Linked DNA regions of Homo sapiens: all the other regions are linked to region 1. Evidence: fine-mapped expression QTL. A gene starts in region 1. Each other region holds a variant in brackets. All regions are shown on one strand. Distances are from middle to middle.

Region 1 (5,234 bases):
GTACTCCTGTGAAAGACTGTAGAAGCCTCTTCCCCAGTATATATGATCATGACTTAGGTTTTCAAATCCTATGTCTAACCTTTCATACTTAAAAAATGAAAATATTACCATGCAACTATATCACAAGGTATTTGAAGTAATTTTTTAAAAATGGGAACAACTTTGAAAAACCTAATATATACTATTAAAACTACAAGATTAGGCCATGAGCCGTGGCTCATGCCTGTAATACCAGCACTTTGGGAGGCCGAGGAAGGAGGATTGCTTGAAGCCCAGGAGTTCAAGACCAGCCTGGACAATGTGGCAAAACTCCCTTTCTACAAAAAAACAAAAACATTAGCCAGGCATGGTAGCATGCACCTGTAGTCCCAGCTACTCAGGAGGCGGAGGCGAGAAGATTGCTTAAAACCGTGAAGTCAAGACTGCAGTGGGCCATGATTGTGCACCTGTACTCCAGCCTGCATGGCAGAGTGAGTGAGATGCAGTCTCAAAAAAAACCAAAACAAACAAACAAAAAACCCCACAAGATTGTGGACAAATGGCAGTGGTACATGAAGCAAGTTTGGAAAATAAGGAATTACAAATGCCATCCTTGGCTGTCTATTTAAGATGTAACTGCAGGCATCGCTGTATACAAATTTTAAAAATTAAAAACGCTGATATTTAATTTGGAATTAACATAAATATTGATGATTTCTCTTAAAGTAGGCAAGACCCGCCCCCCCGACTTGATTCCTGAAACCACAAATAGTACCAAATCCTATATATTCTATGTTTTTTCCTGTATACATATCAATGATCAAGTTTAATTTATAAACTAGGCATAGTAAGAGATGAACAACAATAATAATAAATACAGCAATTATAACAATATACTGTAATAAAAGTTATATTACTGTGATCTGTCAAAATATCTTAATATTTTCCTACAACAGTTGAGGCAGGTAACAAACTCAGACAGCCAAACGGTGGATAAGGGAGGACTACGGCATCTACTATTTGGGCAACTGTAAGCATTATAAAAGATGATCTTAAAAATGCTAAATGCTATTATTATTACCATCATCATCATCATCAATATCTTCCTTCAGTCCCAGGAAGAATGACAGTCTGGGGAGCCCTTCCTAGAAAAGTGTGTGTACACAGTGGCTTGCCATTTAGGAAAACCTAAGAAAGGTATCTTGCAGGCATTATTATTGAAGCTTCCTAGGCAGGCTTACCATGTGTTTTTCTTCAAAGCTTGCTACTCATGGAAAACTTAGGCCAAAAAGAATGGAAACATAACAGTAAGAAGCTGGGCGCCCGTCTAAAACCAAATACTCAAACCAGGTGGTACCTGGAACATCCTATTGACAGGGCTGTTTTGGGACACACCCCCAGGCTGTGAGCAAGGGGAAATGTAGATGGACTGCCATACCATTGAATGAATTGTCAAGAAACTTCAACCTTGAAAAATAAGCCAGTTTGCTAATGACAACGGGATAAAGAAGAACACAAGCGGCTCCAGAAATAGAATTTGACCTGGATTATACCAAATCGTGTTTCCATTCGATGTATAAAATTTCTATAATTGGGAACCTAATTTTTTAAATACTACTCGGATACTCAAGAATAGAACAGAGGAAAAGTTGCATTTCCGAAGGGGCCAACTGTAAATTAGGTTTAGAAAGCCAGGACCAATTAAAAGTGCACGTCGACCAAATTTATTAAGTTCACTGTGCGTTCCCTGGGACCCAAACCCGTTTTCACTTCACTTCACTTGCCAAACTTCAGGGGCGCGTTCACCTCCACGGACGCCTGGGGGTGGATAGTATCAGACACAATGGCCATCTCCTCCAGATCCTCGTCGTACTTCACCTGCAGGCCGTCCAGGCCCCGCACGCCGCCCTCCACGCCGCACACCGCGACCAGCACGCGGTCGCCATCCGGGTAGGTGAGGGGGTCCAGGGGCCTCACGGCCAGGTGGCACGGGAGCCGCGCCCGCAGCCGACCGAACGGGCTCACCTGCAGTGTCCACTCCTTCAGAGTTCGGCGCGCCGGGCCAGGCGGAGGGACCTCAGTCTCCGATCCGGGCCAGCGCTCGCCCCTACCTGAGCTGTACGGCCTGGCTTGGCAAGCCCAGCAAGACCAGCGCCCAGCGCCAGCCCACAGTCGGACCTGACGGAGACAGAGACGGAAGCAGCCAAGCTCCCAACCTGAACAGGGGGCAAGCATGGCGCGCCTCTCTCGCCAGTCCTCAGAACACTTCAGCCACAGGGAGGGTCACTTGCCACGGCCAATCGACTTGGCCACTGTGCCGCCTCAAGTCAAATAGGAGACGTAAGTCAGGGTTTGCTGAAACAAGAGCGAGCCGGTTGGCTTGACTAGGCGATGTAAACATCAGCTGCGTAATCCCCAGGGGCAAGTTGGGATTTGAAAGCTCTGAACTCTGACCTGGACCCCTTGCCTAAGTCCACCCCCTTTCGCTAAGGCCGACGGGATACGTAGTTCTAAAGCGGTGGAAAGTCGCAGAGCTCCGCCTCTTAGAAACCACATATCCCAGGAGGCAATGCGCAGGGGAGCACGGGTAAGAGGGCAGGTGTTAGAATCGCTGGAAAGGCGGGCGCCCTTTGTTTCAAGACCATTGGCTATTGGAGGGGCGGTACATGGGAGGCCACTGGCCAATGGGAAGCACGGAAGGGGGCAACGAGGGTAAAGCTGCATGGTCACCTTGGATACCAAGGACGCGACTTCTTGTTTGGAGAGGGTGGAGCTTTGGAGTGAGACCCAGGAGGCCAAATCCCAAAGAGAAAAATAGGAGCCTAAATAAGGATCAGGACCAAGGGAAGGGGTAAGAAACTGCGCTTTTTAAGTTGACAACTAGGTGCAAACTAGGAGTAACCTATGTGGATGTCAAGATCCAAGCTTCACTAACCTAGTGCGGGCATCTCCAGGGCATGGAGAATGCCTTGGTAAGAGAGTAAAGAGCAAGATTGGTGCTTTTTGAGGGAATTGCCTCTTTGGAAGTGTATTCCCTCCTATATTCCAAATATAGGAATAGAGTACTTGCTCCGTCCTGACCCTAAGTGACCTTACTTTGGGTTTTAATTTGCTCACTTTAAAAATGTAGATGATAATACCTTCCTTGCCTTGCCTCAAAGGGTTTTTGTGAGGATCAAGTAAGAAAATGGATGGGACCGTGGTGCACAGTCTACCAAATTACCGTGTAAAGTACTGTATTTTTATTTCAACGTACTTAACATTGATTCTGAGTTACCAAGAAAATTATGAGAGATCAGAACTTGTTTTGAGAATAGCATTGATCTCTTTGACTACAAATGATCATCAGTTTTAGAGTGAAAAAAAAAAAGACACAAAAAAGAGAGTCACCATGGTGCGGTGGAAAGAGCAGGGACAAGGGTCAGATTATTTTCCTGGCTCTGCCACTGCTTCATCTGTGTCACCTAGACCTGTTTCTTTAGTTTTAAAATGAAGAAAGATGGTTCTAAATGACCCTATAAGGTGTGTGTGTGTGTGTGTGTGTGTGTGTGTGTGTGTGTGTGTGTGTGTGTGTGTTTACCTTTTATAATTCTATGGGCAGTAAAATAATGGGAACAGAAAGATTTATTTTCTTCTTTTTTTCTTCTTTCCTGCCTGGTTTCTCTCTCCCCCTCTGTGCCCCTACTTCCTCCTAAAATGTATTCCCTAAATTATTTAGCCAAGACACCTGCAAACACTAACATTTCATAAAATGCAAGTGCCTTAAAAAATTGAAGCCCTTACCCAAGTACAATGACCAGAATTCTTGGGGCTATCGTGATAGATAGACTGGGCTAAAGTTCTCATGGGTACAAGTCTCAGGTTCTCTGCTAGCCACTACCTTTTTAAAATTTTTAAAAATTCAGTGTTCTCTTAAGTTATCATTGCCTCTTTTCTGTCCTTCTAGTCCTTGCTCCCTCCTTATTCTTCTTTCGGTGAAGACTCACTCATTATAGGTGCTAGCTCAGGTTCAGCAAGGGCCCACTGCAATAGTTCTTTTCTTGTCTTTGTGTTTCATTGGTTATAATTATTCAGAATAATCTTCAAACTATTTTTTATGAAAATTGACAGGTGTAACTTTGAAAAGAAATTTGAAAAAGGCACTGGTTTAAGGAAGTTGAGAATGTACTCAAATTTTCTGTAGAAACACTAGACATTTTTAGATTAAATATTAATTCTTAATAGTTAATTCTGTGTCTATGGTAATTTTTCCGTTTCTGAGACAAACTAAGTTAATGGAATTGGCAACTGAACTATAATTTTCTATGTTGCATAATCATTATTTTACTTTTTCAAACAAAAACCAAATAGAATTGACTGAAAATTTACTTTGCTGATCATACAAGGTTGAAAATGGAGAAAATTATTAATATTAAGATTGGTATAAAATAGTTAAAGTTATAGACACTTAAAAACAGTATAATGAGTATCAAATCTGTCCACATATCAACAATGATTAATAAAAGTTGTATCTTCCATCCATATGACATTATAATTGTCAAACCATGTTCACATGCGTCATCTCACTGTATCCTCACTAATTAGGAGGGAAATTATTCTCCTCACACTATAGATGGGGAAACAGATTCAGAAACATTAAGATTAAGCAATTAGAAGGTCTGGCCCTTTTATCACTCTACCAAAACGTCCATTTTCCTGACACCTTTGAAGAAAAAATGAAATTATTCACCTCATAAGTAGAAAATTATATACAACTTTTTTCTCCTTATTTAGAGTTTGTTTCTAAGATATTTTCACATCTTAGTTTAAAAAAGCTATTTCTGTGGTCATGAACATATACTTCTGGTAGGAGTGTTAAGTTAGCACAAAATTTTTAGAGTTCAATTCAGCAATAAGAATGAAAAGCTTTTTCTATGACTCAGAAATTGTGCTTTTGGGGATGTAAGCATAAAATTAGGGATGCTCAAGGAATTATGTTTTATAGGGTTACTTGTAAGAGAAAATAATTGCATCAATTTAAATGCTCCCTGGCCAGGTGCAGTGGCTCATGCCTGTAATTTCAGCACTTTGGGAGGCTGAGACAGGTGGATCACCTGAGGTCAGGAGTTCAGGACCAGCCTGGCCAACATGGTGAAACTCCATCTCTACTAAAAATTAAAAAAATTAGCTTGGCGTAGTGATGGACACCTGTAATCCCAGCTACTCAGGAGGCTGAGACAGGAGAATCACTTAAACACAGGAGGTAGAGGTTGCAG
Region 2 (5,234 bases), 23 kb before region 1:
AGTTGAAAATGTCTGCTCAGCTAGAAAAGGATTCTAGATTTGAGAAAACCGCTATTAGAATAAATTTAGCAAGGTCACAAGATACAAGGTCCATTTATAAAAATCATTTGTATTTACATATATCAGCAGTAGACAATTAGAAGCAAAGTCTTAAAAACTGTCTCATTTATAACAGTGTTAAAAACACAAATGAATTTAACAAAAAAATGTGCCAGACCTCTACATTGAAACTTACAAAGCAATGCTGAGAAAAATTAAAGAAGACCTAAATAAATGGAGAGAGCTACCTACCATGTTCATTAATTGGAAGATACAATGTGATTCAGTGCAATCCCAAACATAATCAAAACTGTATTTTTTGGTAGAAACTGACTGGAAAATCAAAGGACCTATTATATCCAAAGTAATCCTTAAAAGGAACAAATTTGGAAGACTTCAACTACCTGATTTACAGACTTACCAAAGTTACAGTAATCATGATATTGTGGCACTGGCATAAGGCTCACCAAATAAATCAATGAATTAGGAACAAGAGATCAGACATTGAGCCACACTTATATAGTCATTTGATTTTAGACAAGGATGCTAAAGTAATCCATCAGAGAAAGGAAGTTTTTTCAACAAATGATGATATAAAAAAATTTTAAAACTGACAATAATAAATGTTGATGAGGATGTGGAGCAACTGAAATTCTCATACATTGTTGATGAGAGTATAAAGTGGAACTCTGGGAAAAGGTCTGGTAGTTTATCATAAAGTTAAACATAGAACCTACCTAGTCAACTCAGCAATGCCATACCTAAGTATTTACCCAAGAGGAAAAATATATATACATCCATAAAATGACTTACATTAATATATTCATAGCAGCTTTATTTACAGTTGCCAAAAAATTAGAAATAGCCCAGGTGTCCATCAACAGTAGAATGAACAAATTAAGCCTTCTAATAGCCTGCTTTCACTTCTGAACCCTTCTGGTACATTATGAAATAACAGCTAGATTGTTCTTTTAAAATATAAATTATATATCACTTCCCTAACATCCTGTTGTAGTTGGAATAAAGTCTGAACTCTTACCCTGTCTACAAGGTCCTAAGATCTAGCCTTACTTACCTCATATCCTACCACTTTCCTCATAAGCCAGCCTTCTTTCCCTTGAAAATAGTAAACTTCCATTTTCAAGGCCTGCACTTGCTGTTCCTCTATCTAGGGAGCCTGTATCCAGAATTTTATATAACTCTTTCTCATTTTTCTGGCTTTGGTTTAAATGTACCCTCTCCAGACCACCCCCAATTGCCTAACTGAAGTAGCTTTCTTTTTCCCCAATCTCTATTCAGTTACCCTTTCTTATTTCTTCATTGTACTTACCACAAACTAAAATTACCTTTTGTTATTTATATGCTTGTTGTCTTTCTTCCCAGGGCTCAGAGAAGGTGAAGTCTCTGAGCACAGAAACTATGTCCTGTTGACCAATATGTTCCCTAGTACCTAAAAGAATTCTTAATACATGGCAGGTACTCAATAAATACATGTTGACTAACTAGTTATTGGTATTCACAAGGTTGTCTTCAAATGTTAACACATTTGGAGCCCAATAAACAGTGACATTATTTATATCTTTCTTTCAAGGACTTAATTTAGATATTTGAAGAATTCAAGAAATTTGTAAGATCTTTTTTTCTTTCTTTTTTTTTTCTTCAGAGAAGTTTAGCAAGAAATATAAGACATTTCTTAATACCAGCTCAGGCAATTTTCTTCGAGTGGACATAATTAGTACATTGGTTCTGCCTATATTTGACTTGTGATCCTGTCAAGTTCATCAGTTAAACTGTAGAATTCATTTATTCTAATAAAGTCATCACAAATATACCCATTTTTAAAAGTGGACAAAATACACGAACTAGTAGCTTAGTACGTACCTACTGTGATGTTACCCATCTCGCTTTGTAATGTTATATTACCTGCCAAAAAGAAAAAGATACTTTTATGTACTAGAGACAATCTAGAAAGGAACTGTGATACATAGCAATGCTAAAACATGGATGAATATCTACAATGTTATTTTTGTTGGCAATTTTTCCCAATATCACAAGTCCAGTCAAAGATTGAGCTGTAGTTCTGAAATAACTGGCTTAGGTATCTCTGCAAACCTTCTTTCTCTACTACCAAACCTTAAGCTTTTATAGCATAACTACAAATCACCATAACTGCTGGCACAGAGGAAAAACAATACTTCTAAAACCTGTAAGTGAAAAAAATTACTGAAATGTAGTCACTGTACATTTTCAACCTAAATATCAATGTATTTATCAGACCACACAAAGCGAAGTTTTCAACCAAGTAACACTAAAATATGGTATGGAAAAAAAGAATTACTTTTATTTTTCAGGCCACTTGCCATGTCTATTAAATTAAAAGTAGTTTCTGGGCCAAGAATTAAAGTGGTTTGAGATAGGAATAATGAATACATGGAGGTATGACTAGCAAAACAGAACAAAGAAGCTTCAAAGATTTCCGTCTTAGTGAAAATATGTTTTCCATGATAAGTATGGAATATTGCAACCATTCTTCCCAGCCCCTTTCCCCTAATACCAAAAGTAGTAGGATTATTCTTCATATGTGTGTTTGTACGTGTAAGTATTCCTAGAATCAGGAACTCATATTTATTCTACTGAAAATATAAGCAATAATGTTATCTCTTCTAAAATAATTCCAAAACTACACTAAAAAGTAAAGGAATAACTTTG[G/A]CCTCAGAATTAATCTTCAGTAAACTCATTTTATCTCATTTCATATACCTTATGAATACTGACTTGTATCAGTATCTGGGAAAAACCAAAAAAAGGCACTGGATTCATTTACTCAATAGCCAGATGCGCCTAATTGCAAAAATCCATCTGAAGGTCTAATATACCATCATATTTCCTGTGAGTATATGAACAAGGAGTATATTTGTGTATGAATAAAAACTTGGTTTGTGTACTGAAGCTTATAAGATTACTAATTTTTTTTTTCATATTTTAGATTCAGGGGATACATGTGCAGGTTTGTTACCTGGGTATATTGTGTGATGTTGAAGTCTGGGGTACAAATGATCCCATCACCCAGGTACTAAGCATAGTACCCAATAGTTTTTCAACCCTTGCCCCGTCCCTCCATCCCCCATCTAGTAGACTCCAGTTTCTATTGTTGCCATCTTTATGTCCATAATTATCCAATGTTTACCCCCCACTTATAGGTAAGAACATGTGGTATTTGATTTTCTATTCCTGTGTTAATTCGCTTAGGATAATGGCTTCCAACCGCATCCATGCTGCTGCAAAGGATATAATTTCATTCTTCTTTATGGCCGCATAGTATTCCATGGTGTATATGTACCACATTCTCTTTATCCAGTCCACCACTGATGGGCACATAGGTTGATTCCATGTCTTTGCTATTGTGAATAGAGCTTCAGTGAATATGTTGAGTGCATGTGTCTTTTTGGAAGAATGATTTATTTTCTTTTGTGTATATATCCAGTAATGGAATTGCTGGGTTGAATGGTGGTTCTGTTTTAAGTTCTTTGAGAAATCTTCAAACTGCTTTCCACAGTGGCTGAACTAATTTACATTCCCACCAACAGTGTATGAGTGTTCCCCTTTCTCCACAGCCTCGCCAGCGTCTGCTGTTTTTTTACTTATTTTTAATAATAGCCATTCTGACTGGTGTGAGATGATATCTCATTGTGGTTTTGATTTGCATTTCTCTGATGACTAGTGATTTGGAGCAGTTTTTCATGTTTGTTGGTTTCTTGTACGTCTTCTCTTGAGAAATGAGCAAAATGTCCTGTCTTTTGCTCATTTTTAATAGGGTTATTAGTTTTTTGCTTATTGATTTGTTTAACTTCCTTGAAGATTCAAAGGAACAAAGGATATTAAACCTTTGTCAGATACAGAGTTTGCAAATATTTTCTCCCATTCTGTAGGTTGTCTATTTACTCTGTTCATAATTTCTTTTGCAGTGCAGAAGCTCTTTCATTTAATTAGATCCCAATGAGGCAAGTCTAGGAGGACAGGAATCACATCTTTCTTATTTAGCTTCATACCTGGGAACTTTGCACAGTGCATAGTACATAGTAAACACAATTATTTTGTGAACAAATAAAAAGTTTGGAAAAGTAGGTAAAGAGCAACCTGTGGTAGAACCACAGAGTGCTAAGTCTACTGACTATCCTACACCAAAAAAGTTAGTGAAGAATTTCAAGATGGATAAAAATACAAGAAAACCATGCTTTAAGGAGATTCACCTAGTGTGAGACAGTGGGTGTTTCCATTCTCAGCATTCTCTTTACTGCTTGTTGTGGTTTGAACGTTCCCACAAAAGTTCATGTGTTGGAAACTTAGTCCCCAGTGCAGCAATACTGTGAGGTGGGACCTTTGGGAGGTAATTGGGTCATGAGGGCTCTACCCTCATGAATGGATTAACCCATTCATGAATCAATGGATTAATGGGTCATAGAGGGAGTGGGTTAGCTATTACAAGAGTGAGTCTGTTATAAGAGCCAGTGTGGGTGTCTCTCATGCAGCCTCTCTCCATGTGAGGCCTGTGCCACTTCATGACTCTGCAGAGCCCCTATCCGCAAGAAGGCTCTCACCAGATGCGGCTCCTAGACCTCAGACTTCTCAGCCTCCAGAACTGTAATATATAAGCTTTATAAATCACTCAATCTCAGGTATTCTGTTGTAGCAACAGAAAACAGACTAAGACACTGCTCTACCTCCTGAACAATAAAAGATAGACAGGTCCCTGATATTCGTAACTTTATTAATAAAGAACTATGATAAAGTTTTACAGTCATTTAGCTAGTGAATCCAGTCACCCACTCATCAAGGCAATGGAGCTTTATAGTTTTACACTAGTCTTTAATAATGCAGTAAAAATTTACAATTTTTTTAAAATAAAAATATGGTCTTTCTCAAAAAGCCAATCATTAGTGCTTGTCATGAAAGTGAGGAGGTCTTGAGAAAACAATGATTCTTTGAACCAGAAAAATAGAAGTTTTAGATCTATACAAAATGAGGATTAGTTAATTATAGTGGGACCTATAGAGTCTCAGATAACATTCTTCTTGAATGTTTGAGTTCTACTGTATACTAAAAGCATAATGGAGCAACAACAACAAAAACCCATGGAATTAAGGAATCGTTTCAAATACTGTCTAGTTGTAAGTAACACTTCAAAATATTTTTGTCAA
Region 3 (5,234 bases), 190 kb before region 1:
TCAAGACAGCTATTACCTTTTATCAGATATCTTTCCATTACCTGCTAAATTTCATACTTAAAGAGTATTGTCTTTGTCATTGCAATGTTAAAATTTTTATTTGGAATAATAAACCATTCAGAAAACAATTAAATATTTTGATAACAAAGAGTAATAGATGAGGACTATCCTTGACATACATGAAAATACACTATAAGATTCCAATCATTCAATTAGAATGGTATTGATAAGAGAACAGACCTACAAATCATGGAACTAAACAGATATCTGATATAGATTACTTAGCATATGTAAGAAAGTACCACATAACAAAAGAGACCTTTCAAATCAGTGACAAATAGAAGGATATAGGAATAACTATTAGCTTTTGGAAAGACAGGGTAAAACAATGTAAATTTTCACTTTATATATAAAAATATGAGTAGATTTGTGAACATGAAACATAGCACTCAGCACAGAAAACATCATAAATAAAATTTAAAGTCCAATATTGTCTTAGAAAAAATTTTGAACAAACATAAAGACATTAGGTTGAGATCCTTATTAAATCAAGGTCACTAATGAAAAACACTAAAACTCTAGTAAATAGACCAAGCTCTTAAGTATGTAGAACTGATTCAACTATAAACCACCAGTTTGTTTCTCTGATTTAATGGGACAAAAGGCACTTGCAGATGGTTACTTTATACAGAGTGACTCTATGAACAAAGTCTGTGGAATCCACAAACAGCACACTTGCAGAATTTTGAAAAAGCTTTGAGATTGTGGGAGTACTGCCCTTTACATAAACTGAGACTTCCCACATTTATTTTTATTGTAGTTTAAACACAATTCAAGGATGCTAGTTCAATGACAAATCTGCACGAAGTAAACTGGGACAAGAGGTTATTCAATTGCCCAGAACAGGAAGAATTTGTCTCTCTATCATCCCTGTCAATAATAATTAGCCCTTTCTGAAAAGGGTGTTGTAGATACACAGTCAAAATGATCCTTAAAGGGAGGATATAATTTGGCTTACAGAAATCCATTACCAACAAATAACTGCTTGTGGAGGAAATATACAACAAAGCACCACACTTGGAAGTGATAATCACAGTAAATAGCATCCCTAGCCTAGATTGGGTCTTATATAAGAAACTATCATATTGCCAATTAACAAGTATTTTCTCAGTGTGATGACACTTTGAAATGGCTAAATACAAAATTGGGAGGAGAAAAGAAATTGCTTAGTCTCCTCCCTACCCCTCATCCCCTGCCTCCACAGCTCCCCAAACTACACAAGAGAAAACTCAATAATTCTGTAAGAATGATTTTCCTGGCTCAGTTTTATAAGAGACTTAGAAATAATACAACATCAGTTTATAAACCAGACAGGGCTTGGCCTGCTATGTCAACATAGAAAATCAATCCAGGAGTCCCAACCCTGCTTTGTGGCCTTTAGGGCTGCTTCAGAAATCAATTCCCAAGAAGGATAAAAGGTCACTGCCATGGGGCTCAGGAACACATGCCTCAAATTGCCAGCTGCAGAGCTCAATTCCCCCAGGGACTTGGCAATTTCGGCTCTAAATGTGGATTCACAAGGGAGAGCCATCCTGACCAAGCACATATGCTCTTTTGAGGTAGTGGCCATTTTCATGCCGACATTTTTGAGGCCCTATCATGGGTCAGGACTGAGCTGAGGCTTTCCATGCATTGCCTCACTGAATCTCCACAATAACTCCTGTATGAGTCCGTTTTCGCACTGCTGTAAAGAACTGCCCAAAACCGGGTAATTTATAAAGGAAAGAGGTTTAATTGACTCACAGTTTTGCACAGCTGGAGAGGCTTCAGGAAACTTACAATCATGGCGGAAGGCGAAGAGGAAGCAAAGACTTTCTTCCCATGGTGGAAGAAAAGAGACAGCGTGTATGTCAGTGCAGGAAAAACTACCATTTATAAAACTATCAGATCTCATGAGAATTTGCTCACTATCACAAGAACACATGGGGAAACCATATCTATAACCCAATCACTTCCCACCAGGTCTCTCTCTAAACATCTGGGGATTACAATTCAAGAGGAGATGTGGGTGTTGACACAAACCCTAACCATATCAGCTCTTGAGTAGATGCTATCATTATCATCATCCCCCTTCACAGAAGGGCACAGAGGGACTTAGAGCATGTGGCTGGCCAAGGTACTAATCTACCCAGTGAAGTCAGACCTTTTAACCTTTTTCTGGTATGTTTGTATTCATTCACTGGGGCTGCCTTAACAAAGTACCACCGATTGGGTGGCTTATTCAACAGAAATTTATTTTCTCACATTTTTAGAGGCTAGAAGTCCAAGATCAAGGTGGCGTCTTCTGAGACTTCTCTATCTGGCTTGTTTTTTTCCTTTGTCTTCATATGATCTTCCCTCTGTACCTGTCT[G/A]CTTCCTAATCTCTTCTTACAAGGACACCAGTCCTATTGGATTAGGGCCCACTTTAATGACCTCATTTAACCTTAATTGCTTCCATAAAGGTCCTACATCCAAATGCAGTCACGTTCTATAGTATTGAGGGTTATCACTTTAACATATGAGTTGGGGGGAGCACAACTCAGTCCATCACATTCTCTATTATTGTAATTGTTCAGATCCATTTATCTCTTATAAACCAATGATCAAAACCTGTACATCCAACTCTCTGCCCATCCCATAAGAAATACCTGGTTGTGGCTGGAGAAAGAGCTACAATATACTGGCTGGTCTCACTTGGCATGTTCTTGACATTCAGGATAGGCGGAGTGACCCAGCAATCATATAGACACCATCCATTCCAGTGACACTCAAACTTCAGCGTGCATCAGAATCCCTGCAAGGCTTGCTAAGACACAGACTGCTGCGCCTACCTCAGAGTTCCTGATTCATCAAGCTGGAAGTAAGGCCTGAGATTTTTGCATTACTAACAAGTCTTCAGGTGATACCAATGCTGCTGATCTGGAGACTGCCTTTGAGAGCCACTATTCTATCTCTTTCCCAATCAACTGTCCTTTCTCACCTCCCTTTTAAATCTCCAGCACCTGCTCCCTCATGTTCATTCTCAATGCACAATCTTTTTTTCTCCTTCACTGACAGAGGTGAAACAATTAAAAGAGAATTTCCCCAGTCTCTCACTACTGCACCTGCTCACCCTCCCACAAGCACGTGTACTCACTGTGCTTTTCTTGCTGTTTTGAAAGGTGAATTGTCTGTGGTCTTTCTAGAGCCAATCTCTTCACATGTGCACCAGATTCCAAGCCCTGCGGCCCACTCAAGGGCATCCCTGCATGTCTTCTCCCATCTCTTACCTTGTCAACTCTTTCCACTTTTTGAGTCATCCTCCTCAGCACAAAAGATTGTTACTCATTTATCTTAAAAAGCAAAAAAACTAAGCCAACAAAAACAAGAAAAAACAGAAATAAAACCTTTTACTGGACCCTCTCTCCCTACCAGGTATGACTCCATTTCTCTTTGCCTTTGCAGAAAAACATTTAGAAAGGGGGTCTGTATTAATTCTATCCAGTTCCTCTCCTCTCATTCTCTCACAGACCCACTGAAATCAGGTCTTAACTCTCAACAAAATTGCTCTTACTGAGGTCTCAGATAAACTTCAGGTTGCTAAATCTCATGGCTCACATTTGGTCCTCTCACATTTTACGCCCCTTGACAGAGATGACACCACTCCTTGATACTTTTTTTTTTTTTTTTTTTTTTTGGCTTGTAAGGCTTTCTAATTCACTGGTTGCTAGTCTCAGAACTTTGTGAATGATTTATCTTTGCTTATACCTCTTAGTCCTGGACTGACTTGCCCCAGATTGTAGTTTCTTTTTTTATCCACTCTCCTTCCTTTGGGGATCTCATCCAGTCTCCCTCTGTATGCCCTTTGTTGCCAAATTTACATCTCCAGCCCTGGATGCTCCTTTGCCTCAGACTCCAAAACTATATTCAAAGTCTCTCATTTAGATCATTCAAACTTTTCAAGAGTGACTCCTGATCTTCTCCCAAATATCTGAGCTGCTCAAAGCTTTCCATCTCAGTAGATGAAAAATTCACCCCTCTAGTGCTTAGGTCAAAAATCTTTGAGTCACCCTTGTTTCCTCTCTTTATTACTCCCCCCACTGCACATCCGATTCACCAGGAAGTCTTCCTGTGTTTACCCTAAACATAATTCAGAGACCAATTACTCCTCACCGCCTCCATGGCTATCACTTTCGTCAGACTTGCTACATTTTAGCAATCGTCTTATAACTGTTTTCCTATTCCCACCCTTGCCTCCTTCCATTCTATTGCCCACAAAGAAACATAAGTGATCCTTTTGAAACATAAGTCAGATCACGGCATTTCTTTCCCAAAAAGAAATGCAAGTGTCTAAATTCTTCGCCTACCTCAGGGTAAAAGTCCAAGTTCTTATATGGCCTTTAAAGACCTCTGTGTACTCTCCTCCTCCCTCCATTAGTTCTCTGATCTTCCCTTCTTCTTTTCTTCCTCATCCTACTCTGCTCCAGCCACGCAGTCTTTCTGGCTATTTCTTGAACATAGTAAACATGATCCCTCCTCTGAGCTTTGAGTTGTTTCCTTTGCCTGGGAAATTCCATCTGGAGACTTCCGGGCTTGCTCACCTATATAGGCAAGTCTGTACATGAGACCTGCTCTGACCACTCAATTTAAAATGGCAGCAAAATCCTTCCTGGCACCCCACCTTTAAAATGGCAACAAAAGCCTTCCTGGCACCTTTCCTTTCTAGCTTTGGACCTATTACATAATCTATGTATCTTTTGTGTTATCATCTGCCTTCCCCGCCAGTATGTAAACTCCACAAAGGTTGAGATTTTTGTTTGGTTCACTGATGTATCCCAAGGACACAGTTCAGTATCTAACTTGCAGTGGAAACTCACCAAGTATTTATCAAATTATTTGATAAATGAATGTGATGATAAATGAATGTGACTGTAAAATGATACTTTATAGTCACTGGAGAAATCAGTCTCTGACATCCCCAGGAACAAAATCAACATTCTTTGGAATAGTCATTGATAAAGGGTTCATAACTTTTTGTGCCATGGACTTCTTTGGCAGTCTGTAGAAGCCTATGAACCCCTTCACAGATTAGTATTTTTAAATGTACAAAATAAAATCAATAAACTACAAATGTAGTAAATTATTTTATCAGAACATTTTTAAAATTATAAAACAAATTTGTAGCTAATAGTAATACACATACTTCGTTATCCATT

Evidence for each region. PIP is the estimated chance that this variant, and not a neighbour inherited with it, causes the effect.
Region 2: its variant is the best candidate, but not a certain one, in a credible set for the expression of CCDC146 in whole blood (INTERVAL, PIP 0.64).
Region 3: its variant is the best candidate, but not a certain one, in a credible set for the expression of CCDC146 in tibial nerve (GTEx, PIP 0.72).

The regions. Positions count from the first base shown.
Region 1 is chr7:77,119,903-77,125,136 of GRCh38, forward strand. It overlaps CCDC146 (coiled-coil domain containing 146), which reads left to right and starts at 2,713. Exons shown (of 19, transcript NM_020879.3): 1 at 2,713-2,830. It also overlaps the pseudogene FAM185BP. RefSeq lists enhancers at 1,502-2,003, 2,004-2,503 and a silencer at 2,399-2,498.
Region 2 is chr7:77,096,990-77,102,223 of GRCh38, forward strand. It overlaps the pseudogene FAM185BP. Among named protein-coding and RNA genes, the nearest start is that of CCDC146, 23 kb to the right of the region's middle. The variant G/A (reference allele first, on the strand shown) is at 2,749.
Region 3 is chr7:76,933,377-76,938,610 of GRCh38, forward strand. No RefSeq gene overlaps it. Among named protein-coding and RNA genes, the nearest start is that of SPDYE17, 96 kb to the right of the region's middle. The variant G/A (reference allele first, on the strand shown) is at 2,412.